Linked DNA regions of Homo sapiens: regions 1, 2, 3, 4, 6 and 7 are each reported to be linked to region 5. Evidence: microRNA targets listed by miRTarBase, many of them from high-throughput screens and not tested one by one. Region 5 holds a microRNA gene; each other region holds the end of a gene's coding sequence. Distances are from middle to middle.
What was found. Region 5 holds the annotated microRNA hsa-miR-4725-3p (UGGGGAAGGCGUCAGUGUCGGG, at 2,229-2,250, shown strand). A microRNA usually pairs through its seed, bases 2 to 8, with sites in the 3' UTR of a target mRNA and lowers its output. Matches are read on the target gene's strand: a 7mer-m8 pairs with bases 2 to 8, a 7mer-A1 pairs with bases 2 to 7 and ends in A, and an 8mer does both.

Region 1: miRTarBase lists NTN1 as a target of hsa-miR-4725-3p. Seed matches in the 3' UTR shown: 8mer at 1,827-1,834, 8mer at 3,215-3,222 and 7mer-m8 at 3,874-3,880.
Region 2: miRTarBase lists CCDC137 as a target of hsa-miR-4725-3p. Seed matches in the 3' UTR shown: 8mer at 2,124-2,131.
Region 3: miRTarBase lists KIF6 as a target of hsa-miR-4725-3p. Seed matches in the 3' UTR shown: 7mer-m8 at 2,190-2,196 and 7mer-m8 at 1,911-1,917.
Region 4: miRTarBase lists TET3 as a target of hsa-miR-4725-3p. Seed matches in the 3' UTR shown: 8mer at 2,208-2,215 and 7mer-A1 at 1,638-1,644.
Region 6: miRTarBase lists SDK1 as a target of hsa-miR-4725-3p. Seed matches in the 3' UTR shown: 7mer-m8 at 2,111-2,117, 7mer-m8 at 3,148-3,154 and 7mer-m8 at 3,451-3,457.
Region 7: miRTarBase lists PADI1 as a target of hsa-miR-4725-3p. Seed matches in the 3' UTR shown: 7mer-m8 at 2,235-2,241.

Annotation. Positions count from the first base shown.
Region 1 is chr17:9,239,819-9,244,095 of GRCh38, forward strand. It overlaps NTN1 (netrin 1), which reads left to right. Exons shown (of 7, transcript NM_004822.3): 7 at 1-4,182. The coding sequence ends at 150. Among named protein-coding and RNA genes, the nearest start is that of NTN1, 220 kb to the left of the region's middle. RefSeq lists a silencer at 165-614.
Region 2 is chr17:81,671,728-81,676,104 of GRCh38, forward strand. It overlaps CCDC137 (coiled-coil domain containing 137), which reads left to right. Exons shown (of 6, transcript NM_199287.3): 4 at 17-99; 5 at 349-428; 6 at 768-2,172. The coding sequence ends at 977. Among named protein-coding and RNA genes, the nearest start is that of CCDC137, 7.2 kb to the left of the region's middle.
Region 3 is chr6:39,333,060-39,337,436 of GRCh38, forward strand. KIF6 (kinesin family member 6) reads right to left here. Exons shown (of 23, transcript NM_145027.6): 23 at 1-3,489. The coding sequence ends at 3,473. The region is part of intron 1 of LOC105375047 (a long non-coding RNA gene); the gene reads left to right. Among named protein-coding and RNA genes, the nearest start is that of KCNK16, 13 kb to the left of the region's middle. RefSeq lists an enhancer at 3,104-3,183.
Region 4 is chr2:74,101,585-74,104,584 of GRCh38, reverse strand. TET3 (tet methylcytosine dioxygenase 3) reads right to left here. Exons shown (of 12, transcript NM_001287491.2): 12 at 1-3,000. The coding sequence ends at 2,409. Among named protein-coding and RNA genes, the nearest start is that of BOLA3, 45 kb to the left of the region's middle.
Region 5 is chr17:31,573,098-31,577,474 of GRCh38, forward strand. MIR4725 (microRNA 4725) reads left to right here and starts at 2,172; the gene lies at 2,172-2,261. MIR365BHG (MIR365B and MIR4725 host gene) reads left to right here. Exons shown (of 3, transcript NR_186556.1): 3 at 2,414-2,562. It overlaps MIR365B (microRNA 365b), which reads left to right and starts at 2,314; the gene lies at 2,314-2,424. RefSeq lists an enhancer at 269-888.
Region 6 is chr7:4,264,037-4,268,413 of GRCh38, forward strand. It overlaps SDK1 (sidekick cell adhesion molecule 1), which reads left to right. Exons shown (of 45, transcript NM_152744.4): 45 at 1,088-4,377. The coding sequence ends at 1,348. Among named protein-coding and RNA genes, the nearest start is that of FOXK1, 420 kb to the right of the region's middle. RefSeq lists an enhancer at 1-843.
Region 7 is chr1:17,243,250-17,247,626 of GRCh38, forward strand. PADI1 (peptidyl arginine deiminase 1) reads left to right here. Exons shown (of 16, transcript NM_013358.3): 16 at 761-2,758. The coding sequence ends at 994. Among named protein-coding and RNA genes, the nearest start is that of PADI3, 3.7 kb to the right of the region's middle.

The DNA.
Region 1 (4,277 bases), 22 Mb from region 5:
CTGCTGCTGGGCAACGCGGAGGACTCTCCGGACCAGAGCGGCATCGTGGCCGATAAAAGCAGCCTGGTGATCCAGTGGCGGGACACGTGGGCGCGGCGGCTGCGCAAGTTCCAGCAGCGTGAGAAGAAGGGCAAGTGCAAGAAGGCCTAGCGCCGAGGCAGCGGGCGGGCGGGCGGGCGGGCGCCAGGGCGGGGCCGAGCGAGAGCGGGCGCCTTGGCCCGGCCGCCGCGGACTTGGCCCGCGAGGGCTTTCCCAGGTGGGGGGAGGGAGGGGGCGGGGCCGCACGGCGCGGGGGGCGGGACCCTCGGCGGCCCCTCCCCCTACCCCCACCCTGCGCGCTCTGGGCGGGAGCCGCGTGCACGCGGGGCGGGGTGCGCCGCCGGCCGGGCCCTGGAGAAATGACGAGACGTAGCTACCTCACGGGGCTCCTTCCAGAGCAGAGACGCGCTTCCCTGGGCCTGGGCGCGGCCGCCGTGGAGGGGCTGGGGGCAGCCTGCCCTGGGGCCCGGGGGCGGGCGCAGAATCGCACAACTGGGGCCCCAGGCGCGGGGCGTGGATGGCGCGGAGACGTGGACGGGAGGAGAACTGTGAATTCTCAAGCCCGTAGTGTGGGCGGGGCGCGGAGCACCCACCAAACCACCACCCGACACGCAGCCGACGGGATCCCCCCCTTTCTCCCCGGCCCCTTCTAGCAGTTCCCCGCGGGCCACCTGGCTGTCACAGCCTGGACTCCTCCATCTGAAGGGGCCTGGCAGCATTTGGGGAGTGGACAGCTCCTGTCCAGCCAGCATGCCCCAGGCGGCCTCTGTCTCCACTGCTACCTGCTGAGTGGGTCCTACTGGGTGGGGGCTTGGGGTCGGTGAGTGGTTCACCTGTGGAGAGAGGAGAGGAAGCCCCTGCTGCTGCCTGTCTCTGCCCCTGCCCCTGCCCCTGCCCAGCGTGGGGCTGGCCCATCCGGAAGGCAGTGGGCCCAGGGACACCCCTGAGAAGCCCAAGCCGGGTGGTCACCGCCTCATGCTGGAGCTGCCTGTTGGAGGAGGCATCGCAAACGCAAAACCTCCCAGAGAGTTTCCTTTTGGAAACTTGGAACCAGCCCTTTTTATGACGTTTTCCAGGGGGAGGGGGAGGGGCACTGGCTGGGTTTACGGCAGTGACACTATTTATGTAAATGACATCAGCTCCCGCAAGGCCCCTCAGCAATGTCAACAGCTGGAAAGGGCCTGAACGGGCTTGGAGTCTGCAGGCTGCGAAGGCACTTGGGCCTGGCTTGGGGCCGGGGGCTTGTTTGAGCTGGGATGGGGTTTGCTGGCTCAGTGAAGTACCAGAGTGCCTGAGCCATGGGTGGGCAGGGGCACAGGAATGACCAGGTTCCTGGGGGCCAAGGAGGCCATGCTGGCTTCTCCAAGGGAAGGCACAGAGGCTGCCGGCCTGCCCCCTACAGCTGTCTTGGGTCTGGCCTGGGCCACACCTTGACCGTGCCTTTCCAGACGGTCTTTGTGGAGTCTGCCCGTGCCCTCCACTGTGCCCCAGCCCTCCTTCCAAAATCTCCTAGAGACACGGTCCTCAAGCAGGCAGCCCCTTTTGTTCTGACCTCCTCACACAGGGTCCATTCCTGTGCCCTGGGGCCTCCTGGCTCCCTGCCTTCCTGGGCTCTCTGCACTGCCCGGGCCTCTGGCCCACATCCTCACACCCGGCGCACTGAATTAAGAGGCCTGGCTCCCCTCACAGTCAGGAAATTGGTTTCACTTTCCCGGCCAGAGTTTGGCTGCTCAAAAGGGTCATACCAAGTATGAAGCTCGGCCCCCGGTGGTCTGGCTTCCCTCCGCCTTCCCCACATTTACCCGCATCACGGCTGCCATTTATTGAGCACCTGCTGTGTGCCAGGCACTTTACCCACATGCTCCCAGTGTGTACTCATGACAACCCTGTGGGACAGGGACTCATTATCACCAGCAAGGAGACTGGAGTACACGTGCCCAAGGTCATGCTGCAAATTGGTGGCAGGACTGGGGCTCAAACTCCAGAGCCCGACTTTCTGACCAGGGGCCACGCTGGCCCTCACTGCACTCCAGCTCTGCAGCCTACCCGCCCAATCCCTGTGCAGGCTGGGAGGGTGCTCTTGGGGGAGTGGCCACCGAGCCCCTGGCCCTGGTTACTGCCTCTTGAGGACACTGGCATCTGGGCTGGAGAACAGGAGCCCGGGGTGGGGTAGGGCATGGGGACAATCACATCTTCAGAGGAGGCAGCAAAGTGGTGCGGGATGCAGGGACGGACTTGCCAGATGGCAGCTCCAGGTTCCAGGAAGGCAGGCCTTGGATGCTCCGAAGAGGTGGTAGAAAGGTGTTTTTAGAAAGGTGTTTTGGCTGCCTCAGGGTGGTTGGAGAGACTCCAGGAGAGACTGGCAGAGGTGCCTCAGGGGCAGGGAGCAGACAGACCTGCCCTGGGAAGGGGCATTTGGCTTCCCTGAATCCAGCCCAAGGCTAGAAGACAGGGCCCCTCTCCAAGCTGTCAGCGCCCCTCGGATGCCCAGTGTGGTGTGCTGGGCGCCATCAGCATCACAAGGCACTACGCTGCTGGGGCGGTTGTCCTATTTCTGTCTATGCCAGTGTGGTTTCTTCACCCTGCCCAGAAGGGCTGTGGCAGCCCCACGATATCCCACCCTGGGTCTGGGTCTCACGGGTGTCCTGTGAGGGGCTTGCATTTGTGGTGGTCTCTGAGGCCACCTCAGCAACGGAGCTGGCGACACGCCAAGCAACAAGGCATCTTGCGGAAAATTCAGCCAGTGTCCTGCCCCTCCCTTCGGCTCAGCACCCCGCAGGGCACAGGCTGTCCGCCCGGTGGTCTGGCCCTTGGGGAATGCGTCAGGGTGACCAGATCCACCATGCTAGCAGCCAGGTCACTGTTGGGATTGCACGGTCGTCACGAGCTGCCTTTCCTATCCACACACCCAGCCAGGACCCAGCCCACCACTCCCGACTGCAGCCCCGGCCTCTGCGGTGAGCACCATCCTTGGGAAAGCACCCCTCCTCCACTCCGGTGCCCCACTCCAAGGAGCAGAGGGAAATGGGAATTGAGGTGTCCCGGTTTGTACAGTTAGGAAGGGATGTAAAACGGAACTAGATTTTGATTTTGAAGAGTGTATTAACCAGAATTGTGCTATGTAGGTGTTTGTTTGAAGAAAAACATACCAGATTAGTCTTTGTTTTTGAAACAGCTTCCCCAGTTGTCCTTTTTCTTACCAGCTGGGTGGTCTGGTGCCCCTGACAGCTGAGTGCCTGCTTTACGGACACGCAGTAATGCCGAAGATTTGCGGGGGAGGACATAGGGCTGTCCCCGGGATTCACCTGCTGGCTGTGGTCTCTGCCCACTGCTTCTGTCCTTGGAAAGCAGGGCAGGAGGCAGCATCCCCAGGGGCCTCTATGTGGGAGGGAGGGACACCTGGGGTCACAACCCAGGGAGGGAGGGTCACAGCCCAGGGAGGCTGGGAGCTGCTCCAAGGCCCTGGAACTCTGCCTCAGTCGCGGCATGCTGGAGAGGGGTACGGACTTACTTTCTTGGAGTTGTCCCAGGTTGGAATGAGACTGAACTCAAGAAGAGACCCTAAGGGACTGGGGAATGGTTCCTGCCTTCAGGAAAGTGAAAGACGCTTAGGCTGTCAACACTTAAAGGAAGTCCCCTTGAAGCCCAGAGTGGACAGACTAGACCCATTGATGGGGCCACTGGCCATGGTCCGTGGACAAGACATTCCTGTGGGCCATGGCACACCGGGGGGGATCAAAATGTGTACTTGTGGGGTCTCGCCCCTTGCCAAAAGCCAAACCAGTCCCACTCCTGTCATTGGACGTTTCTTCCCATTCCCTCCTCCCAAATGCACTTCCCCTCCTCCCTCTGCCCCCTCCTGTGTTTTGGATTTCTGTTCACTCAGAATTGTAAATGTTTAGTTGTGACCATGACGTATTGTTTGGGTCAATGTCCCTTTCCAATGCATACTAATATATTATGGTTATTATATATGAATATATTTAATGACATGGAAAAAGTTGTGGATTTTCTTTCTTTCCTTTTTTTTGGGGGGGGGTGGGGGGTTGGTTAGAGTTGTAATGGACCCAGATGGAACTTGTAATGTGGGCCCCACATGATAGAACTAAATTCAGATATCATTAAATAAACTCTTGTACACTATGCCGTCTCGCAGTCTTGATTGGTGGCCTGGGCTGTGGGAGGTGGGCGTGTGGGGAGGCAGGGGAAGGATGGAGTTTTCGGGGAGTTTGAGGAAT
Region 2 (4,377 bases), 50 Mb from region 5:
GTGCTTTCTTCCCCAGGTTCCAGAAGCGGCGACTAGATAAAGTCCGACGGAAAAAGGAGGAAAAGGCGGCAGACAGGCTGGAGCAGGAGTTGCTCCGAGGTAGCTCTTCCCAAAGCGATGGTGTCAGCAGTGGTCCGGGTGGGGCCTGGGCGCAGGCCTTCTGTTCCCCACCAGCCCTGGCTGCACTGGGCACCTGTGGTTTCCCCTGGGGTCCACAGCCATTAGACCACTGGATGAGTTGGTGTTCTGTCCCAGCCCTATGGGAGGGAGGTGGGCGGGTGGTGGCTCTGGGTGTCAGGGGTGCAGTGGCTGTGGGCAGCAGTCCTCAGTTGTATTCTGCTCCTCCAGACACGGTGAAGTTTGGTGAGGTTGTCCTGCAGCCCCCAGAGCTGACTGCCAGGCCCCAGAGGAGCGTAAGCAAGGACCAGGTAAGTGGGGCACGGGGACAACTTGAGTTTGTCCCCCAGTGCTGCCAGGGAACAGAAGCCTTGGACAGGCTGGACACGGTGGGTCACACCTGTAATCCCAGCACATTGGGAGGCCAAGGCAGGCGGATTGCTTGAGCCCAGGAGTTGATACCAGCCTGGACAACATAGCGAGATCCTGTGTCAAGAAAAAAAAAAACCCTCAGCCAACGTGTGCGCTGTCTGGTGTGTGGCCTGAGAGTGCAGTGTTCTCGCTGGCGGGAGAGCTGTTGAAGCTGTGAGGCTTTCTGTTGCATCCCCTCCTTTCCCAGCCTGTGCCTCACCCTCCCCTCTCTCCCTCAGCCTGGCAGGAGATCGCAGATGCTGCGGATGCTTCTGAGCCCCGGTGGTGTGTCCCAGCCTCTGACCGCCTCCCTGGCCCGCCAGCGGATTGTGGAGGAGGAGAGAGAGCGGGCCGTGCAGGCCTACAGAGCGTTGAAGCAGCGGCAGCAGCAGCTGCACGGGGAGCGACCCCACCTCACTTCCCGGAAGAAGCCAGAGCCGCAGCTGTGATGGAGAGACACCCGGGGCCTGGCCACGCTCTGGGGCAACTGGCACCAGGAGCTGCTACACCTGGGTAGGAGAGAGGCAGGCCATGCCAGCAGTGTGGGGTGAGGCCTCCAGCTACTTGTTCACACGTTGGGCACTAGTGGGTCCACATCTTGCAGGGGGTGAGTGCCCGATGGACTAGGGCCAAGGCCTGGTTGACAGACGGCCCGTGGGGCCCGGTGTCACTCACAGCTCCATCTCTTTGTTTTGAACGTCCATTCTGAGTCTCAGCCCAGGTGGACCTTAGGAAGGGCTGGATCCCTGTCCCTGAACACCAAATACCGAGACAGCTGATGAGGCTGGCTCAGTGTGTGACGGAGGCCCCCGGGAGTCAGCAGAGCCGAGCGTACAGTGCACATCAGGCAGAGCAGGCCACGGGCAGGGACGACGCATCGGGACAGGGCTCTGCAGGGGACCGTGACTACAGGCCAGCTGTGAGTGGTCCCCTACAGAGGCTGCCCACCCAAGGTTTGGTTGGGGTGAAACATGATGACAACACATACACTTAAGAAGGTGGGAACCGGGGGCCGGGCGCGGTGGCTCACACCTGTAATGCCAGCACTTTGGGCAGCTGAGGCGAGTGGATCACCTGAGGTCAGGAGTTCGAACCAGCCTGGCCAACATGGTGAAACTGCATCTCTACTAAAAATACACGAAGAAAAAAAAAACAGTGGGAACAGAGTTGTCACCTACCTAACAGGGCTCTGAGAGAGCCGGGAGGCCCAAAGTGGCTGGAAGAAGGTAAAGGAAAAATCCTGTCTTGGGCTCAAGGTCACAGAGTGGGGCCCAGGGGGAGTTCCTGCTGAGGGCAGGGCCTTGCCAGGCTTCAGTCTCCAGTGCCAAAGGAGGAAATGCCCAGGCTGTCAGCATTTCCAGATGAGAGCAGAAGGGAGAAGCTTAAACCCAAGTCACACATCCAGCAATGGAGTCCGACAGCCCAGCACCATCTGGGAACTGAGAAGCACCTCTGCCCGGCCCCCACACCGTGTGGAAAGTGAGGAGCACCTCTGCCTGGCCGCCACCCCGTCTGGCAAGTGAGGAGCGCCTCTGCCCGGCCGCTGTGCAACCTTCCAAGTGTGAAGTGACAGCCTTGTGTGTGATGTTTTCTGCCTTCCCCAAGTTTGCACTTTCGACATTAAAGTTTACTTTTTAGTTAAAAGTTTTAAATTGGAGAATATATATTTAAAGTCAGGGCTGTTTTCCTCTTATGGGCATGTTTCCCACCTTGTGATGGACCTGGCGGCCCCAGCCCTCGCGTTGGGATGTTGTTTTTGCAGCAGCCAGAACTCAGCCCCAGATCACAAGCAGCAGCTGGAAGGGGGTGGCCTTTCCCTGGGAAAGGGCTGGGACGGCAGCGGGTGGCACTCCCACTCGCTCAATGCCTTTGGTTTTGGGTGTCAGATCGGCCCGTGTATGGCTAAGCAAAGGGATCCCACAGGGCTGGGAAAGCGCTCATGCTCTCCACTGCATCCATGATTCTCAGGTTTTAGCTGCTGGAAGGGAAACCCCTGGTGGTTTTTAGGGCCTCTTTGTTGCCCAGGCTGGGGTGCAGTGGCATAAGCACACTGCAGCAAGTTGTTGGGCTCAGGCAATCCTCCCACCTCAGCCTCCCAAGTACTTGGGACAACAGGTGCTCACCAACACACCCAAATAATTTTTTGTGCTTTTTGTATAGATGGGGTTTCGCCACGTTGCGCAGGCTGGTGTCGAACTTATGGACTCAAGGGATCCGCCTGCTTTGGCCTCCCAAAGTGCTGGGGTTACAGGCGTGAGCCACTGTACTTGGCATTTTTTTTTTTTTTCTGAGGCAGGGTCTTGCTGTCACCTTGGCAGGAGTGCAGTGGCACGCTGGTCTCCAAGTCTTGGGCTCAAGATTAGCCTGCCTTGGCTTCCCTCAGTGCTGGGGTTCCAGGAGAGACCAGCTCACCCCTCCTACTTTTTTTTTTTTTGAGATGGAGTTTTGCTTTCGTTGCCCAGGCTGGAGTGCAATGGCACAATCTTGGCTCACCACAACCTCTGCCTCCCAGGTTCAAGCGATTCTCCTGTCTCAGCCTCCCAAGTAGCTGGGATTACAGGCATGCACTACCATGCCTGGCTAATTTGGTATTTTTTAGTAGACACGGGGTTTCTCCATGTTGGTCAGGCTGGTCTCAAACTCTTGACCTCAGGTGAGCCGCCCGCCTCTGCCTCCCAAAGTGCCGTCCTGCTTTTCTTACTTATCCTTTACTTCTGGAATCTTCAGGAGGAGGTGATGTGGGCATGTCAGGGTCAATGTTTAAGAGGCGAAGGCCATGGATGGACCTCCCTGGGCCTTCCGCTCTCCATGGGGCAGTGCTGTTCTCTCCATATAAAGGGAAAACTGAATTTGCACAAAATCGGGGTGCTGACAAAACCAGTGATCCCAGATGGGTCACCTACTTGTACACACAGGTCTCGCAGCACCCTAGTTGTCAACTTTCCTACAAAGAATTTTCCCAGACTAGCCAGATTTTCTCCCAGCCAACCTATCACACATTTATTGATGTGATTTTTTTTGAAGAAAAAAATTAATGTTATAATTTCACATACCGTATAATGCTATCCTTTGATTAGCGTTTAGTTTGATGGGAACTCCAAACTGTTAAAGAAAATTCAGGCCAGCTGTGGTGGCACCATGCCTGTGGTCCCAGCTACTCGGGACGCTGAAATGGGAGGTTCACTCAAACCTGAGAGGTCAAGGCCGCCCCACCGTCTGGGAAGTGAGGAGTACCTCTGCCTGGCCGCTGCACCGTCTGGGCCTGTGAGCTGTGATTGTGCCTCTGCACTCCAGCCTGGGCTGTAACAGAGCAAGACCCCCATCTCTAAAACAGAAAAGAAAAAAAATTCCTATCCAGGTGCTACATCTGCGCTGAGAAGAGTCCACGAGCAGAGACGACTCTGAGAACAGTGGTGTCCTCAGCAGCATCAATTTCCCCAGACTCAGGAGAGAATTGGGCTCTGGCATGTGCACTGAGGGGGGTCCAGCATGCCTGGCCCCATGTGGGCGGCAAGCCACCCGGGTGCCAAGGCAAGAGACTGAGGACACGAGCTGTTCCAGTATAATAAAATATAAGAATAGTTATACCAGACATAGATCTTAGATATGATTATATATGAATCATGAATCATTAGTTTATAGCAATTACTCTTTATTCCAATATTATAATAATCCTCGCTCTATAATCATAACCTAGGAAAAGCTAGGCCATACAGAGATAGGAGCTGAGGGGACATAGTGAGTGAGGTGTGACCAGAAGACAAGAGTGCGAGCCTTCTGTTATGCCCAGACAGGGCCACCAGAGGGCTCCTTGGTCTAGCGGTAACGCCAGCATCTGGGAAGACGCCT
Region 3 (4,377 bases), not on the chromosome of region 5:
ATTGGTTTGTATAGAGGATTTTGTCTCATTTTTAGTCATTTAAAGCAGGAGGGTAAATCAGGTCCTTGTTGCTTCATCATGGCTGTAGGTGGTGGTCCTGCTTTTCCATATACAGGATGCTCTCAGTGCCTTTCCACAGGCTGCATGGAGAGACAATGAACTCTGCACTGAGAAATCCTAGATCCAGTCATATACTGTCTCTGGGTTCCAATTTCTGTGCCAGTCTGCTATTGCTACAATTAATGCTATATAACAAACCACTCTAAACCTCAGTGGTTTATGACAAGCAGCATATATTCTCATGCCAATAGGTCTTTGGGTGAGCCATAGTTCAGCTGATCTGGGCTGGGCTTGCCTGGGAGGCTCTGCTCCAGGCTGTAGACTGGGCTCAGGTCTGCTCTCTGGATGTTCCAGGCTGAAGGGGCAGCAGCTACCCATGGCATGTTCATCCCAAGAGAGATCACTGGAGCAAGAGGCAAGCTCAACCATGAGAGCACAATTCAAGCCTCTGCCTGGATCAGGTTTGCCAACACCACATTAGTCAAAGTGGGCCATGACAAAGCTTTGGATGTGTAATTCTATACTGGTGGTGAAGAATTAAAATGATGTATTCAGTATACCACAATTTCTCTATCTGCTTTCTAAAACTCCTTTTTAGCAAGATCTGGGCAAGCTACATTTTAACTTCCCTCCTCCAACCTCCGTCCACCCTACTTCTTGTCAAGGGATTGGTAGAGCCAGTTGAATTCTAGCAGGGACTGGGCTGGAGTCACTGGCTAGGCTGCTTTCCAGAAAATGTTTTTGAAAATCCCACATTTTGGCCTAGAGTGAACTCAGATACTTCTTGTCATCCGTGGCTCCACTGATCCCAGGTGGATTGCTGGAAAGTCTTTTCAAAACATTGCATCAATTTCTCCCATTTGCAGAGGCCAGTGAACTCTGGGAAGGTGCACTGCTGTCAAGCATGTGTCCATATCAAAGGCTGGGCTTCCATTAGGGGATGTTCGGAGCAAAAGGCCCCTTGGCCAGTTGCTGCACACACTTTGCATATGCTCTGGACACCAGTGGCCCCAGATCCCATGTTGTGTGTTTTTCTGTCTTCATTTCCTTTCCTGTCTTAGTGATTGCCCCAGGAGGCTGGTTCACACCCCGCATGGGGCCATGCCACACATCTCTGTCAGTAAGGCCTTTGGATCCAGGAGATGATGTCTCAGTGGGAGATCTAATGTTGAAAGACTCTGGCAGGGTATGTGGCTCATGCCTGCAATCCCAGCACTTTGGGAGGCCAAGGCGGGAGCATCGCTTAAGGCCAGGAATTTGAGACCATCCTGAGCCACACAGTGAGACCCTGTCTCTACAAAAAATTTAAAACGAGCTAGGTGTGGTGGTGCATGCCTGTAGTTCCAGCTACTTTGGAGGCTGAGGTGAGAGGATCGCTTGAGCCCAGGAGTTGGAGGCTGAGTATGGCTTGAGCCCAGGAGTTGGAGGCTGACTAGTGAGGTATGGTCGCACCACTGCACCCCAGCCTGGCTGACAGAGACCCCCCCCATCTCAAAAAATAAATAAAAGAAAGTAAAAATAAAAGAAAATAAAAGTTAGTAGACTCTACCCAGCTCTAGAGGGCTGAGGGCACTAAGGCATGCCAAGAATACTGCTGCTGCTACATAGGGGACTGGGGCAAATGCCATGCCATCTTCAGGGCTCTTGAGAGTGTGTGTGTGTATGTGTGTGTGTGTGTGCAGTTACATGTGTGTTCCATGGACTCTTGGGGAGGCTTCTAGAATCAGAATTTGGTCTTCCTCTGGTTCTACAGACTTTACAGAGGGCTTACTATGTTCCATTGAACTGTGAGGGCCAGGAGTGGACCAGAGATGCTGGCCCCTGTCCCGATGGGATTCAGTCAGAGCCTGGGGGAAGTCAGAGTGACACCAGCCTGAGAAACACATCTGGGTTCTGGCTCGTCTACTCATGAACTGAAGGACCGTTTACTGAACAGCGACTCTGTGCTTGGGACACAGCAATGAGCAAGACAAACAGGTCCCTGTTGCATTGGAGCTCTTAGTATTATGGGGGGTTGCAGGTATTTCAAAAATAGGCAAGTTCGGAAGGATAACATGTCAGATAGTGATGCAGAAAAAATGGTAATGGGATAGGGGATAACTAGGGGGTGACTCGAGATGGAGTGGTCAGGGGAAGCCCCCTGAAGAGGGGACATTTGTCAGTGGCATAGAACAGCAAGCTGAATCTCCCCTTCACTCTGGCCTTCTAATTATATAAAATAGGGGTGTGGATTAGAGGAGCTCGATGGGCCTGCCTAGCTTAGAAATGTAATGGTTTAATCTTCTCCTGCATGATCCTGTTACCCAGTCCTAAAAAACGAAAAAGAAAATCAAGCCAATTATACTATATTACCACTCTGCTCCCCTCCAGGGTCATCAGGTCCTGTATTTATAGGACAGAGACACCAGGAGCAGTGGACCAGCACTTTTATCCAGTTAGCTTCATTTCCAGGTGCCACTCCTGCTCACCCTCCGCTGCCCCTCCCTGGCTGCAGCTGGGTTGGAACCCCCTGGCCCAGGGGGCAGTTCTTCAAGAACCTCCTTGAGGGCTGCCCACCTTCCCTTGGATCTGTCATGGAGAGGGCCCATGGAGACAAGACCCCCAGGCAGCTATGTTTTTCCCTGTGGAAGTGGGGAGTGTCAGCCCAAATCCTCCCAAGTGGCTGGGTGAAGGTTGTGAGGCCCAAGGTACCCACACTGCCCTCTCTCAAGCTCTCAGCAGAGCCCCTGGGAGCTGCCCACTGTTCTCTGGGTGCTATGATGTCCTTAGACCCTGCAGGGCAGATGGCTCCCTGGAGACACAGCTGTTCAGGCACTGCCTCCAGGTCATCCTGGCCAAGAGGCTGATGGTGAAAGATGTGGTCTGGGAGATCAGGATTGGCCTTCAGGATGCCCTGCATTCCACTGCCTTGCCTGTGGCTGGGACATCCTGCCTGGACCTGTCATGGCCATTTCTGGGCTTCCAAACCAGAGCACGGGCCAAGGGAGAGAGCTGGCAAATCGTTAAAAATAAAAATATTCCCCCCACATTCCACTGGTGTGAGCATCCTCTGACATTATATTTTGATGGTGCTATTTCACATTCTCAAAAGCTTATAAAGATCTACACAAAACGTCACTACAACAGTGAGCTGAAGCCTTCACCCTGCCCCTAGCACTCTGGCCTTGCCTGGCCCTGCCAGCAGCTCCAGCAACCACAGGAAGGATGTTGTGGTCAGCCCCAGCCCCAGCCTCTCGGTGGCCTCCAGGTCAGCATCCTTAAAGAAACACAGTCCCCTCCATGGGAATCAAAGTCACTAGTTGCTCCCAGCAGCCCATAGTTCACTTCTGAAGCCAGAGCAAGTGAGGGGCGCTGCCTTCATCTGTGCTTCATTCTTGCTGGCATAATTCATGGATGGATATTTCCTGGAAATTCAATTGCTTCCCAAACCTGAAAGGGAGACAGGATGCTTTTGGTTAGGCTGTGCATGCAGACACTGACTTTTCCCAGGATTGAATCGGGGGGAGGGGAGGCCACCAGCCACTCCCCCTGGGTCTTGGGCACTGCATCTGTGTCTTGCCTCCCAGGAGCTGCATTTATACCCCAAGCTCTGAAGGAAGAGGCCCCCTTTGCCCTTTGCAGAAGCTCCATCTCCCTAGGCTGAGACTGACGCCTGTTTTCCTACCCCACCGTTTTCTTTCCTTTTCTTTCTTTCTTTTTTTTGATGGAGTCTCGCTCTGTCACCGAGGCTGGAGTCTTGTCTTTTCCTTCCTTCCTTTCTTCTGTCCTTCCTTCCCTTCCTTCCCTTTCTTCCCTTTCTTCCCTTTCTCTTCTTTCTTTCTTTTTCTTTCTCTTTCTTCTCTTTCATTCTTTCTCTCTTTCTCTCCCCTTCTTTCCTTCCTTTCTTCCCTCCCTCCCTCCCTTCCTTCCTTTCTTTTCCTTCCTTCCTTTTTCTTTCTTTCTTTCTTTCTCTTTCCTTTCTTTCCTTCTTTCCTTTCTTTCTTCTTTCTTCTCTTTCTTTCTTTCTTTCCTCCTTCCTTCCTTCCTTTCTCTTTCTTTTCTTTCTTTCCTTCCTTCTTTCTTTCTTTCTTTCTTTCTTTCTTTCTTTCTTTCTTTCTTTCTTTCTTTCTTTCTTTCTTTTTCTTTCTTTTCTTTCCCTCCCTCCCTCCAGCCTCCCCTCCCTTCCCCTCTTCCTTCCTTCCTTCCTTCTTTCTTTTTCTTTCTTTTCTTTCTGGACGGAGTCTTGCTCTGTTACCCAGGCTGGAGTGCAGTGGCACAATCTCGGCTCACTGCAACCTCTGCCTCCGGGGTTCAAGTGATTCTCCTGCCTCAGCCTCC
Region 4 (3,000 bases), not on the chromosome of region 5:
ATTCTCCAAATGTTTCGTAAAATATTGTATTTCTTGCTTAAGATCATTTAAAATGAAGTTTTCAAGGCACCCCCGCATCTACCTAAGCACGGAGTCAAATGAGACCTGCATAAAAGTACTGATGCGATAAGCAAAATAGCATTTAAAGGACCCAATTTTTCCTCAAAACTAGAAAATTAGCATGCTCATTAAAGACTCTGCTTCCTTTAGCTTGTCAAACTGAAGGTCAGAGGTTTTCCTATAAATCTGAGTTCTGAATAATTCTAAGTCCTGATAAGCTCTTGGGTATTTATTTCAAAAGCAATAATATTTCATTTTTTTGTCCTGTAAAATAAATGCAACTTTACAGAATATGGTAAAAGTGGAGGATAGACAAAGCACATTAAATATTCGGCTACTATTTACAATTTCTCCCACAATTACATGTTAAAACATACTTTTTTTTTCAAGTTGCTGTTTAAATCTAGGCAAAAGTGCTTAAAAAAATCTTTCACTATTTACAGTTAAAACCAGACCACATAAATGCTCAGGACATCTTACAACGACCCTCCGCCAGTGCTTCCAAACAGATACAGTAAACACCCAGCAGGCCGGTTCTCAGCTCTTACTCAAGGCACCCGGAAGCTCAGGAACTTGCCTATAGCGGTCATCTGATTGTTAAACATGATTCATGAAGACCCATATCTGAATACAACTGCTCAGTAAATACCTGTTCATCTCAGGGCTTGGTGGTCATCCACCGTGTGGCCACATTCCCCTCTGTGTGTCCTGATGAAGCCCCCCATTCACCACACACACATCCACATGGCTAGCATGAGATCATTTCTGCTAATATCACAAGAAAAACCAACACTCCAACAAAGTTTGACTTGGTGATGATGAGTGTTGCTCCCATCAGGCCCAACCTCTCTCGACAACGTCACAAAAATTAAGCACCACATTCTCATTTCAAAGAACCGAATGAATGCACCAGAATTTCAGAACAGCTATATTAAAGTGGATGAAGAGGGGAGAAAGGAAAAAAAGAAAATGATCAAATGGAGAAATGGCACCAATTAGGGAGGAAAATTATAGCAACCTGTTGAAAATGTTTGACTCTTGCACTTTAAAATTGTTAAGTGTAGGCCCCCGAACCCAATGACAGCATGGAGGAAGCAGGCTCAGGTGTGAGGCATGCACCATTGTCCAATGTGGAAATTCAGGGATCAGGATAGATGCATTAACTGTTGTTACACTGGTCTGCTGAGCTCCTGTAGGATGTGACCTGCCCAAGAGTCAAGAAAGTCCCAGCACAACACTACAGCACCAGGCTCCGCACAGCACCATGCACAGAGCACCACTGGCTTTTCACAGCTTGGGTTCAACTTCCTGTTTTTAAAGATACAGTAGCCCTTTTTCAGTATCAGCATAGACTTTGGGGGCATTTTTTAAAAAACTGCCACTAAGACAAATTCCTTCAGCTCAGCATGCATTGGCTTGGCAACATGGTGGGCACGGCCCCTAAGAACCTCGCACTCCAGCTCCAGCGTGAGGTGCTGCCTAGTGAACCATGACATCGTGTGACTCCATAAATAACGGACAGAGGATTCAGTGTGGAGACTAGCAAGCTTGAAGCCATCTACTTCCAACCTGGTTTCTGGGGAAAGCTATGCCAGCATCTCGTGGGGCTGGCCTGGGGTGCATCTGCCCTTCGACTCCAAGCCGGGGACTGGAAAAGGGACCCCAGATGGTTTTCTGCAGACTCTCCCATCCTATCAGAGAGGACAGAAGCTGTCCTGAGGCTCCCTTCCCCAAAGGGAAGGGGTGTATGTCGGGAGGGATGAACTGGGTGGCTACCGTCCGCGCTTGGCTCTCGAGGGGCAGATGGCTGAGGACCTCGCCAGCGCCCGAGGGGCTTGGCTCGCCAGACCCAGCGAGACTGGGCGGGGGAGCACTACTGGCCTTTCCTGCCCATCCTTTACCATTACTATTGTCGCTTTTAAAAAATCCAATAAATACACATTTTAAATGGAATTTAAAACTACTCCTTTGTGAAAGGATACTATAAACTTTCTTTCCATTATTGTGATATACAAGGATAGAGTTTTAAAAACAAAGAGAAAATAAAAATAAAAACCCCCCAGACAAGGGGGGGGGACAACTTGGAGATATAAATATTAAGATCACGGAAAAATCACCCGACAGCCGTAGTTTCTTCTTCAAAGTGCTGGGGAAGTGGGGGTAAGGGAGGGGCGGGTCAGTTCTGAGGTTTGGACCATAAATACATATATATGATATGCGCATCTATATATGTATATAGAGATAAAAAGACTTCTGCACCCCCAACCCGCCCCCAGGTATGAGGGCAAAAGCACCACAGAGACAGCTCGGGCCAGGCCCGACGCTGAGGTACGCTGGCTCCCTGGCACCTAGATCCAGCGGCTGTAGGGGCCAGTGACCTTCGTGTAGGCATAGGAGGACACGGTGACCGCCGAGTCTGTGGGCACAGCCAGTGCCTGCCGGGTGGGGACGACCCCCTTCTTCTCTTTCTGCTGGGGCTCAGCAACCACAGTGCCCCCCCACTTGCGCTTCTTCCCGTAGAGCTTGGCCTCCTGCTGGCCCAGGCCCAGCCGGGCAGCCTCCTCCTGCCGTGCCCGTGCCCTCTCCGCCAGCTGCTTCATCTTGGCTTCCCAGAGGGCCAGCCCGTGGTTGGGCTGGTTGAGGTTCTTGTGCTGGTAGAAGACCAGCGAGATGCGGGTGGGGTGGCAGCGGTTGGGCTTCTTAAGCGGCGTGGTGGCGTGCAGCTCCCGCCGGGCACACTCGATGAGGATGGAGCCGTGGGCTGGGGCCACGGCCACGCCGCCGATGTTCTCGTCCAGGAAGTTGTGTTCACTGTCCGACCACAGCTCCTCCTCTTCCTCCTCCGCACCACCACCGCCCTTCTCCTCCTTCACCGCTCCCTTGCTGGGGGGCTCCTCAGCCGGCCCCTCCTCCAGGCTGAAGGGGTCCCACAGCTTCTCC
Region 5 (4,377 bases):
TAATAGCTAATCTTGATTGAACGCTTTGTGCCAGGCACAGTTCTAAGCCTTTTCCATGAATGAACCCATTCAGTCCTCCAGACAACCCCTGAAATAGGTAGTAACCCCAGACTCACACAGGAACAGACAAAAGCACTCGGGGTTAAGTTGCTGGCCCGAGGCTAGTGAGTGGTGAGCTAGGTCTTGCCTGCTTATTGCACGGCACCACGTGGGGTAAGGTGTGCCAGGCAGCGGGAGCAGCTCAGCACAGTGATGCAGGTGTGCTGTTCAGTGGTTCAGATGATGCAGAACCTAGTGTGGGGGGACTGCTTCAGTTCTGCTTTGTTGGTGGAGAATATGTCTGTGATCTTGGTTAGGACAGAAAGCTCCGGGTGGATGACAGGTGCCAGAATGTCAGTTTGAGAGGGCTGAGGCTGGAGCTGGCAATCGGGATAGCAGGCACACTTCCTCACAGTCTGAACTGGAAGGAGCGTGGAGTGTTGGGGAGAAGATGCAGTGTCAGTGCCCAGGGTGCAGCGAGGCACGGGCTGGCACCCTGACCCAGCCCCCTTCCCAGAGGGGAAGAATTCGCTATGGCCCAGCCCCTGCCCTTGGGGTCTGAGGGGATCCACTTTTGTTAGGAGCCTGCTACACACTTTGCTTTCTTTCGATCCTTACATTGCCCTTCCAGGTGGGCTTATTATTCCTATTACAGATAAGAGAGCTGAGGCTGGGAAGCCGAGTAATTTACACAGGGTCAGGTCATACAGCAAGTTAGCAGGTAGTGGTGCCAGCAGCTGGCTGTCTTTTGTGGGGATGTGTTTTCACCACAGCGGTGGCAACCTGTGTCCTGACAGGCCAGGTTCCTGCATGGACAGTGGGGCCCCCAAAGAGCAGGTGCAGTGCCAGGCTGGACAGATTCCAGCTGTGCCGGGGCCTTGGGCAAAGTGGCCTGGCCTCAGGAGACACGTTTCCTGTTGCTGGGTGACATTCCACAGGTGGGAGGCACATGCAGGACCTCATTCCCTAGGGGCCTTCCTGGTCTGGGCCCTGATGCCCTGACGCTGGGGTTGACCCTCTACTGCCCTGGAGGCTCACCTGGGCCTCGGGACAGAAGGGATTGTCCCATTAAGGAGAATCCTCTACGAGTCTCTGATTCTGGAAGCTCTTGTTTTTTATCCTCCCATACAAAAAACAAATTGGCCACCAGTCTCTTCCCTTCTTTTTGGCCACTGTCTCACCATCTCCTTCACCCAACCTTGGTTTCTTTCAGCCTGTGCTTCCCAGCAGAGCCTGTGGGCTTGTTGATTTGAACCCAGAAACCACCTAGGACATTCCAGAGGTCTTCACACTTGTCTTTGTTGCCCATTGTAGGCCGTTTTCATAGAAGGGTATTGGGAGGACCTGCCTTCCCACTCAGGCCAATGTGAAGCTGTTGCTCTTTTGCTAAGGGCAGGGTGGGATATGGCCGAGAATTGGTGGGCGGGCCTGAGATCCATTCAGCAGCACCCCAGGGCGTGCTGTTTCTCACAGGTTGCAGCCTCTTCCAGCCCCTTTGCTTTCTGTGACAGAGCTGAAAGTCTCATTTCCTCTTTGGCTTTCCCTTTGAAATGGGAGAGAGGGTGGTGGGAGCTTAGCTCCTTCCAGGCCCATTTTACAGGCAGAGTAACCAAGGCCGCGACTGCTGGAGAGAAGCGGAACCGGAGTTCCCGTGCCCATTCCTGTTGGAATCTCCTGTCTGTGTGCCGTTCTTTAAGATGGGCTGGAGAGAGTCGGGGCAGCTCTTCTCCCGGGTTTTCAGGCCTGGGTTGCTCTTCTGGGCACTTCCTGGTGTTTTCTTCTCTTTGCCTGAATCAGGCCTGGCCTCAGGCCTGGTTACAAGAAGGTTGGAGGCTGGCTGTCTTGTGTTCATGTGTCACGCCAGGCCTGAGACCATCATTGTCTCTCTGAGATGGTCCACGCCCCTCCTGTGAACACAGGGGCTACAGACTATAGTATAGTTCTTGCCACGTTCCCGAGTTTTGGGGGCTGCTCTCCACATTGGGATTCCACCAGGATGCTGGTCTGCAGTTTCCTGCAGGCAGAAGGCGCTGGGTTCTGAGTTGGCTTTAGGTGGAACCCAGGTCATTCCTGGGTATGCCTTGGGAGGGCGGCGAGGCTGGCCGCAGCTGGGCCCGGCATCGGAGAAAATTGTGTCTCTCTGGAGACCCTGCAGCCTTCCCACCCACCAGGGAGCTTTCCATGGGCTGTGGGGAAGGCGTCAGTGTCGGGTGAGGGAACACCAGCTTCACCTCGGCTCATCTGGGCGTGGCAGACGACTGCTTCCTCACCTGGAGAGTGTTCAAGGACAGCAAGAAAAATGAGGGACTTTCAGGGGCAGCTGTGTTTTCTGACTCAGTCATAATGCCCCTAAAAATCCTTATTGTTCTTGCAGTGTGCATCGGGCAGCGGCCAGCAACCTGCCTCTCACCCACCTGGCCCTTCTGGGAGGACCGGGACTTCCTGGGGTCAGATTGGAATGTACGTCCAAAATAAGAGTGAATGGGGATTTGCTGATTATTAAAACAATTTTGTTTGCGTGCATTTTTAGCATCTTCTCTTCTGGTGGAGGATTGGAGTGGCTGAGGGTCGGGAGGGCTGGACATCAAGATATTCCTGTGCAGGTTGGAGCCCAGGAGGGTGCAGGAACTCCCTGGTTTGTGTGCAGTGAAGGCCTGGAAGAGCCTAGCTGCACGTGCAGTGCCCAAGGAAGGTCATCTTCCGGGTCAGTGATGTTAGAGGCAACAGAGTTGGGCTGGACAAGATGCCCCCCAACCTTTCCTGAGAAGTTGAGGCAGGAGTAGAGGAGGCATCTATCTGCGCAGGAACTTGCATTGTATTTTAAAATAGAAGGCAGCCTGGCCAACATGGCAGAACCCCATCTCTGCTAAAAATACAAAAGTTAGCCGGGTGTGGTGGTGTGTGCCTGTAGTCCCAGCTACTCGGGAGGCTGAGGCATGAGAATTGCTTGAGCCCAGGAGTTGCAGGTTGCAGTGAGCCAAGATTGCACCACTGCACTCCAGCCTGGGCAACACAGTGAGACCTTGTCTCAAAAAATAAATAAAATAAAATAGAAGGAGCCTCAGAATCCACTGTCTGTCTGAGACCCAGTGAACTAGCCATTTTGAAAATAGAACAGTGAATTGAGGGTCTTTCCCCCTCTACTGTGACCCTGGAGCTTGCTTTTCCTTGACTGAAAGTCCTCCATCCTTATTTCACTTCATGGATCTCCTCCATTCTCAGCAGGTCTCCCTACCCCTGCCCTATCCAGCCCCACCCTGCAGATACAGTCATGCACTGCCTAACGATGTTTTGGTCAACGAGGGACCGCATGTAGGACAGTGGTCTCATAAGATTATAACACTGTTTTTACTGTGCCTTTTCTGGTTAGGTACACAAACGCTTGCCATTGTGTTCTAATTGTCTACAGCATTCAGGATAGGAACGTGCTGTACAGATGTGTAGCCTAGGAGCAATGGGCTCCCCCACCTAGCCTAGGTGTGCAGCAGGCTATTCACCATCTAGGTTTATGTAAGCACACTCTGTGAGGTTGGCACAATAACAAAATCACCTAACAATGCCTTTCTCAGGATGGATCCCCGTTGTTAAGTGACACATGACTCTATTTTGACCAGCCAAGGCTTTTGGAGGTCCTGGGGGATTGTCGAGAAGCAGAAATACCTTTTTTTAAATTATTATTATTATTTTTATTTGTTTTGAGATGGAGTCTTGCACTGTCGTCTGGGCTGGAGTGCAGTGGCGCGATCTCAGCTCACTGCAACCTCCACATCCCAGGTCAAACGATTCTCCTGCCTCAACCTCCCAAGTAGCTGGGATTACAGGCGTCTGCCACTATGCCCAGCTAATTTTTTGTATTTTTAGTAGAGACGGGGTTTCACTGTGTTGGCCAGGCTGGTCTCGAACACCTGACCTCATGATCCACCTGCCTCGGCCTCCCAAAGTGCTGGGATTACAGGCATGAGCCACTGCGCTCGGCTGAATCCGATTTTTCTGAGACCTATTTTTTTATTTTTTATTTTTTTGAGACACAGTCTCACTCTGTTACCCAGCCTGGAGTGCAGTAGCTTCATCACAGCTCACTATAGCCTTGACCTCCAGGACTCAAGGGATCCTCCCACCTCAGCCTCCCAAGTAGCTGGGATTTACAGGCACCCACCACCATGCCCGGCTAATTTTTGTATTTTCAGTAGAGATGAGGTTTCACCATGTTGGCCAGGCTGGGTCTCAAACTCCTGACCTCAGGTGATCCACCTGCCTCGGCCTCCCAAAGTGCTGGATTACAGGCATGAGCCACTGCGCCTGGCCAGAAATACTTTGTTAAATCAATTTGTGATATGC
Region 6 (4,377 bases), not on the chromosome of region 5:
GGAGGCCGCGTAGACCTCTCCTGAGTGGGGGAGGCCGCGTAGACCTCTCCTGAGTGGGGGAGGCCGCGTAGACCTCTCCTGAGTGGGGAGGCCGCGTAGACCTCTCCTGAGTGAGGGTGGCCGCGTAGAACTCTCCTGAGTGGGGGAGGCCGCGTAGACCTCTCCTGAGTGGGGGAGGCCGCGTAGACCTCTCCTGAGTGGGGAGGCCGCGTAGACCTCTCCTGAGTGGGGAGGCCGCGTAGACCTCTCCTGAGTGGGGAGGCCGTGTAGACCTCTCCTGAGTGAGGGAGGCCGCGTAGATCTCTCCTGAGTGAGGAGGCCGTGTAGATCTCTCCTGAGTGAGGGAGGCCGTGTGGACCTCTCCTGGGGTAAGGAAGGCCGCGTGGACCTCTCCTGGGGTAAGGAAGGCCGCGTGGACCTCTCCTGAGTGAGGGAGGCCGCGTGGACCTCTCCTGAGTGAGGGAGGCCGCGTGGACCTCTCCTGAGTGAGGGAGGCCGCGTGGACCTCTCCTGAGTGAGGGAGGCCGCGTGGACCTCTCCTGAGTGGGGAGGCCGCGTGGACCTCTCCTGAGTGAGGGAAGCCGTGTGGACCTCTCCTGGGGTAAGGAAGGCCGTGTAGACCTCTCCTGAGTGAGGGAGGCTGCGTAGATCTCTCCTGAGTGGGGAGGCGGTGTGGACCTCTCCTGGGGTAAGGAAGGCCGTGTAGACCTCTCCTGAGTGAGGGAGGCCGTGTAGACCTCTCCTGGGGTGAGGAGACCATGTAGATTGCTCCTGAGTGGGGAGGCTGCATAGACCTCTCCTGGGTGGAGGCCCAGCTCTTCTCGGAAACCTGGTACAGAGTGAGGGGCTGGATGCAGCTGAGAAAATGCAGTGTCGGTCACACCTGGATCAGGGAGGGGGACCTGGGGGCTGCCTGCTCTCCTGTGTGGAGGGTGGGAGGGCCTGGCATTGGGTTGGGGTGGGGAGAGGGCTGGAGACCGCGACACACGCCCCTGGGGAGGTGCCCCCACCGCCAGGCCTCCTGCCCAGCACGCTCCGGGCCCTGCGCCCTGCCCTGCACTCACACCTTCTCTCCCGCTCCCCGCAGGCCACGGACTCTGACTACGAGGACGCGCTGCCCAAGCACTCCTTCGTGAACCACTACATGAGCGACCCCACCTACTACAACTCATGGAAGCGCAGGGCCCAGGGCCGCGCACCTGCGCCGCACAGGTACGAGGCGGTGGCGGGCTCCGAGGCGGGCGCGCAGCTGCACCCGGTCATCACCACGCAGAGCGCGGGCGGCGTCTACACCCCCGCTGGCCCCGGCGCGCGAACTCCGCTCACCGGCTTCTCCTCCTTCGTGTGAGCAAAGCGCCGCGCCTCCCTCAGGGCGGAACGGAGGCAACTTTCCGGAGTCTATTTTTGTTAAGACAATCAACTCCAATAACTGAGCTGAAGTTTTTGTTTAAAAAGAAAAAAATCTGATAAGTGATGATTTTACCTACTTGTGGACACTAGATTTCAATTAGGAAGGTTTTTTTAAACGGCTTTTTGTAACTTCGCTGCAGGAAGCAGGTTTGTTTCTTTTTCTTTTCTTTTTAAGAGAAGGTGTATTTCACTGGTGCAATGGCTTGGCACCTCCGGGGCCTGGGAGGACCTCAGACCTCCCCAGCCCTGGGTTTCTCCGTCTTCAAGACCAACTAGGAAGGGTCAAGCGGGGAGAGGGAGTGGAGGGTCAGGTGAGATCTCAGAGCTGCCCCGGCCGGCCCCCGTCTCTTTCTACCTCCTCTTCCAGAGAACCAGCGGCTCACACCCTTCTCAACGCAGGACATCCTCGGCGGCTCCTGGGGTTTGAAGAGCAAACGTTTTTCCCTGGGCTCAGTGCGTTTTGTCCCAACTTCATCTGTTTCTGAAATGTTCTCACTTGGCAGTGTCTAGTCAAGGAGTCGGCTTTCAGGTTCCTGACGGCCAGGCAGGGATGCTAAGGTGTGGCTCAGCCGTCACTGTCTGTGTCACTGCAGTGGTGCGGTCCTCAGGCTTTTCTGCCTGTCTTTCCCCCTTCCTTCTCACCTGACAGCGAGGGAGAGGGAAGCCTCTTAGGGCTGGAAGCCACCACGCTGGCCCTCTCCTTCCCCGAACACAGCACACGGTCAACTCCGCGGGACACGAGGACACGGGACGGCGTCTCCAGAATTGCTTGTTACGTAGGAAGCGTGCATTGTTAACCAGAGTATTTTTAAAATCTTTTTATCTTTTTTTAAACTATGTCACATGAAATGAATGCGTCTTTGCTGTCTCCAGGTGCCTTTTTATTAATTGTTCAGCTTTGTACATGGGAAAGATGAAAAGCAACAGTGTCTGCAAATAAAGCAAAACAGCTCTGAGAACACACGCTCCCGACTCGCCTCGTGCACACCAGGCCGTCCCCTCCCTCTGTCCTGGCTTCTGCTGGCTGCTCGCAGCAGCCACCGCTTCTCCACCACTGGCGCTGCTGCTGCCCCCTCTCCCAGTCCGAGGCCAGCTTTTAGCCTTAACAGGTTTTTTGGAAATGTTTCTTTTTTTTATTTAAAATTGTCATTGTTTGGTTTAAATTTTTCAGCTAGATGAAAAGAGTATGAACTACTTTGGAAAACTTAACAGCTCAGAGATGGCCATGCCTCCAGCCCCTCACGTCATCTTTGCAACAGACGACTGGGCTGCCATGGTCCACCCCTCAGCCCGGGTCCCGGGTCTGGATGGAACGGGAGCACTGCTGGTGCCCACTGGCGTGTGTGCCCCGGGTCCCTGTAAGTGCCCCCTCACCAGCAGCAGCGTGACACACACAAGACTCAAGACCACCCTGTCAGTGCCCCCCAGTGCACGGCAAACGGGCAGGTGCCGTTCCCCCAGTGACCTGAGGGTAGGGGACAACTGAGCAGTATCTGACCAGTGCCACCCAGGAGCCAGTCTCCTGGCCACATGCAGAAAGTGTGGCCCCTGCTTACCTAGATGTTTTGTGCACCTCCATGGGCAGAGGGTGTGGATATTGCCTGGATTCTGTGCTGTCAGCGTTGCTGAGTATGGCCCCAGGAGACCAAGGAGAGTTTTGTATAGGCTGGAAAACCCCTTTTCAGTCTTTCCAAAATTAGAGGGTATGGCAAGTTTCCTTTTTTCTCTCCTCCCTTCCTTCCCCTCCTTCCTTTCCTTTACCCCTCCTTTCCTTCCTTCCTCCCTTCCTCTCTTCTTTCCTCCCTCCCTCCCTCCTTCCCTCCCTTCCTTCCTCTCTTTCCTCCTTCCTTCCCTCCCTTCTTTCCCTCCCTCCCTTCCTCTCTCCCCTATTCCTTCTTCCTTTTCTCCTCCTTTTTCTGAGTGGAGGGGGAAATATTCTAAACCAAAAATCCTAGATGCTCTGCCCAAAGCCACTTCTGCATGAGAATCGCAACCCACAGTTCCCCGGATGAGACTCACCACAGTGGACAGTGCCACCTCCTTCCCCTCGGCCCCGGAGAGGGCGAAGTGGGCGGGAAGCCAGGATGTGAGCACTGGAATTTCTTGGAAGAGAAGCGATAAATGGAGACCATGGCCAGCGCTGCTTTCTGTGCACTCTGATGACTGCTCTCTGCAGCCATGAGGATGTGGCTTTACATGCCAGGGAGAGTGTTGAGACGTCTTAGGTTGAGGATGAGCAGATTCGAGATATGTTTGTTGCTCTCGGGTTTTCGATACAACATCATGACACTTCTGTTTCAAGCTCATGTTTTCCGTCTCCCCTCCACTCTTAGTAAACCTTGATCTGTACGGAGCGGCCTGTCCGAGGCTACGCCGGCCTCCTGGCTGCTGCTGGACTGTGCTTAGGACAGCGCCCATGCCTCGGAGGGACTCTGTCCCATGAGAACCACCTGTGCAAAGGAACAGAGCTGGATGTTTCCAGGTAGATTTTGGCCTCCCAGAGCAATGCGGCATTTGAGAAGCAACAGTTCCTAACTCCTTATCTTCAGGGAAGGAAAAGAAAATCACAGCCTAGGAAGATGGAGGTTGGATTTTAATCTCGGTTTTAAAAAGAGGACAAACAAAATGTCTCTAAGCCAGGCTAGATGGAATGTGCTCCCGCTCTCTCCTGCCGTGCTGAAAGTCATGCCTTGCGGATGCCTCATGACAGCAGTGGCTGAGTCTCCCCACCCACCCCCAACGTGGCTCATTTCAGATTGCTTCGGCCCCACCCTGCAAGGATGTGGTCACGGAGTGGCCAGGAGGCTCCGTCTGAGCCACAGGGATGGGTGTGCAGAGCTCCCTCCTCCTGGGGTGCCAGGGCAGAGATTCCAGGCAGGTGAGCCCAGAGAGAGCTGCCAGGCCACACCCCCTCGGCCTCCTGCACGGCCACCTTCTGGGTGAATCGGTCCAGCCCAAGCCCCTCTC
Region 7 (4,377 bases), not on the chromosome of region 5:
GCCCCAAGCCAGGTCCGCAACCAAGGGAAGGAGAGGTGCCCCCAGAGTTAAACTCAAGTGTCCCCAAAGGCTTTTTCAGCCCTTTCCCCCAACTCCTCAGTCCCACAGGTGGCCAGATAAAAAGCATGGATTTTGGCACCAGCCAGATCCAAGTCCAAATGTCAGTCTCATCATTCTCTGGCTGTATGATTATGTGACTTAACCTGTCTGAGCCACAGCTTCAGAGGGAGGCTGTGGCATTTAGTGATGATATATCTGGCACATAAAAGATGCTCAATAAATGCTAACAATGATCAGGGCTGCCAAAGACAGTTAAGCAAGCTGTGCACAGCAAAAGCACACCACACTTTGGAAGACATCCACACCACAGACCTTGTAGGTGTGTATATTTGTTGTACAAGTTTCTGGCAGATGACACGAAAATCTCTTGTTCTAACAAAGTTGCTATAATATGACAATTTTCTCATAGATGAAAGAAAGAGTGGGAGAAGTTTTTTTTTGTTTTTTGTTTTTGTTTTTTAATGTACAAAATTCCTGGTAGTCCTGGCTGTTATTCAACCTCATTTCCAACCCTGAATCTTTTTCTCCTCTGCTTTCATAGGCCCTAACTCTTGAGCAAACTCCAGTCCTAGAGCCCTTTCTAGGCTGTGGCTATGGCCAACCCATTCCCCAGGGCCTGTCTCATTCTGGCAAGGAAGGGGTGCCAGAAGCACAGCACTTATAGCCAGACAGCCTCCCTCTTGCCTTTTCTCTTTTGCAGGTTAACATGGTGGTCTTAGGCAAGTACCTGGGCATCCCCAAGCCCTACGGGCCCATCATCAATGGCCGCTGCTGCCTGGAGGAGAAGGTGCAGTCCCTGCTGGAGCCTCTGGGCCTGCACTGCATCTTCATTGATGACTACTTGTCCTACCACGAGCTGCAGGGGGAGATCCACTGTGGCACCAACGTGCGCAGGAAGCCCTTTCCCTTCAAATGGTGGAACATGGTGCCCTGAGCCTGCCCCCACCCGCCATCCTCTCTGCCCTCTTGCTAGGGAACCCTGCCAGGGTGAAGGCAAGGAACAACCACCTGGCCTCCATTCTCTTGGGGGAGTCTTGGCACTTTGCAAACATCCTGGCCACCATGGGCACCAGGACACAGGGATGGATACCACCTACCCTCGCCTCTGGAATGGCCTACCCAACCCGAGAAGAATGCACCTCATTCTTCCCTGGCCTCTTTCCCACCCACAGCCCCCAGAGGCTCTAGATCAACAATGTTAGCATGTTCCAGAATGGCTGTGGGAGGCCTAGGGAGATGGGCCCCACTTAGAATTGCTCCCCCTTCATTCTGATGCCTCCCTGGGGAACAAGGATAATGACTTTGCATCTGCACCTGGAACGGGGCCTGGGGGACCTGGGGTCTGGTGTGCCAGGCACCAGGCTGCCTCTGCTCTTGGAAAACTAGGAAAGGGGATCAGAAACATCCTCTCCCCGCTCTAGGTTTCTTCTCCCAAAGGGGACCCAAGGCTGTGACACTTACCTCCACCCCCATCCAGCACCCTTCAGCTGTGTGTGGACAAACAAGGACAGAAAAACCCAGTGTCCAAGGGCCAATTTAAATAGAAAAAAAGACAACAAAATTTTAATAGCTGACTCCGACCTCAGAAGAGTGATTGCTACCTTTCTGGAAAGACTTTAATTACCAGAGCTGGCTTCTCCCAGCTCAGAAATGCTGAGAAGCCAACGTGAGGCCTGAGGACACACAAAGGATGACGGGGCAGGAGGGGATGAGGTCAGGGTAGCAGAGTGTGTGACGACGGATTTGGGGGCCTAGAGGTGTCCGTGGTTCCTGGGCTGGGATTTTGGACTCTGGATTTGAAGGGAGCTGGAGCTTCCAGATGTAGCAGGGGTAGGGGGCCAGATGTTAGAAGAGGGTGTGTGTGTTGGGAGGAAATTAGGTTATCTCTGAAGGTGGAGTTTAATTTCCTTTAATAGTCTTTAATTATTCCCCTTCATTCTGCAGGCAGTGGGAGGGGAAGGCTTGCCCGGTCTCTCTCAGCAACCCAGGGACCCTGCACATAGCTTAGGTTTCATCCCTGAATAAACCGCTGTGCAGGCCCATGTCCCCTCCCACAGTAGGGAAGACAGCTGCCACGGGAGGTTAATAGCCCGGAGTGAGGTCACTGAGACATGCACAGGCAGGCTGGTTCAGCTGGGCTGCAGGGCACGGGCAGGAGGAAGCCAGCCTACCCTCTTCCCCCACTGCCAGTGAGGCCATTGTAGGGCAGTTGGCCCTAGGGCTTCGGTCCATCTAGGTTTTCAGTGGCCCCTGCTGAGACCTCACACTGAGCCAACTACTGTCACTGTTTTAACCAACAAAAGCTAGCCTGGAACTGCTATGGTTAAAGTGGGTGAGCGGGAACCTGAAAATCCCCTTCTGGAAGGTTCTACAGAACTCTATTTGCAAGCTCCTGCTTTAACCTGAGCGTCCTCTGCTCAGGATCATACCCCAGCCTGCACTGAGTCAAGAAGGAGAAGGAGGCTCTGAAGGGGCCGGGGGTGTGAGCTGGGGTTGGGACTCCCCTGAGAAAGAGCTGTGGGTAGGAAGGGAGTGAGCATTGCAGAGATAGGGCTGGGGGTCGGGGCCACACTGAGTGTGGGAAGCTCTGGAGTTGCTGCTGGGCCATCGAGGGGCCCTGGTGTTGGCTCTGAGAATGTTCTGGGTGACCAGTCACCTACTTTCTGATCAATAAAAATGTCGACATGCATTTCTTACAGGGCTGTCTACCCAGCCTGTTTGTTGGGTTGGGGAGGAGGGGAGGAAAGCGGAGAAGACTGCTTCCAGTTCCATCCACTATGAAGCTGCTTGGCTCAATTTCTGCTGCCACAGGCGGCCCCTGCTCAGCTAGGAGAGCCTCACAGTGCCACGGCCAGTGCCACGGCCAGTGCCAGGCAGGCTGATTCAGCAGGATGGCTGGCACATTGCCTCTTGCTCTGGGGCTGATGGCCCTGCTAAGATGGAGATCAGATCAGGGGAGGGATGGGTCCTGCCTCTTCATCTCTTCTCTCTTCCTTCAGCATCCCCTCCATCTCTCAGGGACAACAGGTCGGGGAGGCAGCCCGGGCCCTATTAACAGAGGTGAGAGTTCCCCAGCAGGGCTGGTTCCCAGGGCCACAGGCCACTACAGTTCCCTTTCTGGTTTTCGTTTTGTTTTGTTTTCTTTTCTTTTGTTTGAGACCGAGTCTTGCTCTGTCACCCAAGCTGGAGTGCAGTGGTGCTATCACAGCTCATTATAGCCTTGAATTCTTGTGCTCAAGCGATCCTCCCACCTCAGCCTCCTGAGTAGCTAGGAATACAGGCACAGGCCACCATGCCCAGCTAATTGCTAATTTATTTTTTACGGAGCTGGGGTTTTGCTATGTTACCCAGGCTGGTCTCAAACTCCTGGGCTCAAGCGATCCTCCCATCTTGGCCTCCCAAAGTGCTGGGATTACAGGTGTGAGCTACTGTGCCTGGCCCAATTCCCTTCCATTTTTGTGTCTGAAGCTTCTAAGTTACCTGGCTTCAGTGGTCTGATTTTGGATGCCTGAAATCATCACCCTCTCATCCTACACATTTGCTGCTGCCTCAAATTACACCGTTTGATACTCACTCACTTTATTTTAGCTTTTGTTGTGGAGTAAGAGGGCAAAAAGTTGCTGCCTATTAGTCATTGACACTTTAGTCTGAATTAACCACAAACCTGTTTCTAAAAGTTGGTATTAACAGAGGAGAAGTGAAGGCATGAGTCTCCTTCCAAAGACATATACAGTTCTCCGAGAAAGAGGCAGGTAGTGGGCCAGCACCCCAGGGAAAGCCCCTACTTTCTGCATCTATTCCCCATCTGTGCTCACAAGAAGGCTAGGGAGACTAAGGCTTCCTCCTGAGCTCGAACTCTTACCCAGGGCTCCCAAGGCTGACTCAGCCATCAAGCCATTCCACAGCTGAAAAAAGTGAAGCTGTCCCTTGACCCAGAAGCCCAGCAGTTCTCCTTGAAAAGAACATCTTTCCCAAAAACTGAGACATGGGAATGACAATCTCAGGGTCCTGTTGAGGCCCTTGAACTGGTGCAGATGTCCCAGCTGGAGATGCTGGGGAGCGGGTCCTGGTCCCCATCCTGTCTCAGGCTGTCAGCACTGCCAGGGAGAAGGGAGGAAACCTCTATTCAGCACCTCCTGAGCCTCCGCCAGGCAGGGTGCGTCTTCACTATTATCTCCGCCAGGGCCAGTGATTAGCTGCATTTTCTACAGATGAGGAAACCGAGTCTCCAAGAGGGGGGACACTGACACCCAAGGCCCTATAGTGGGTGCACGGTGGAGCCTGCCTCTGAACCCAAGACTTCTCTCCCCAGAGCCC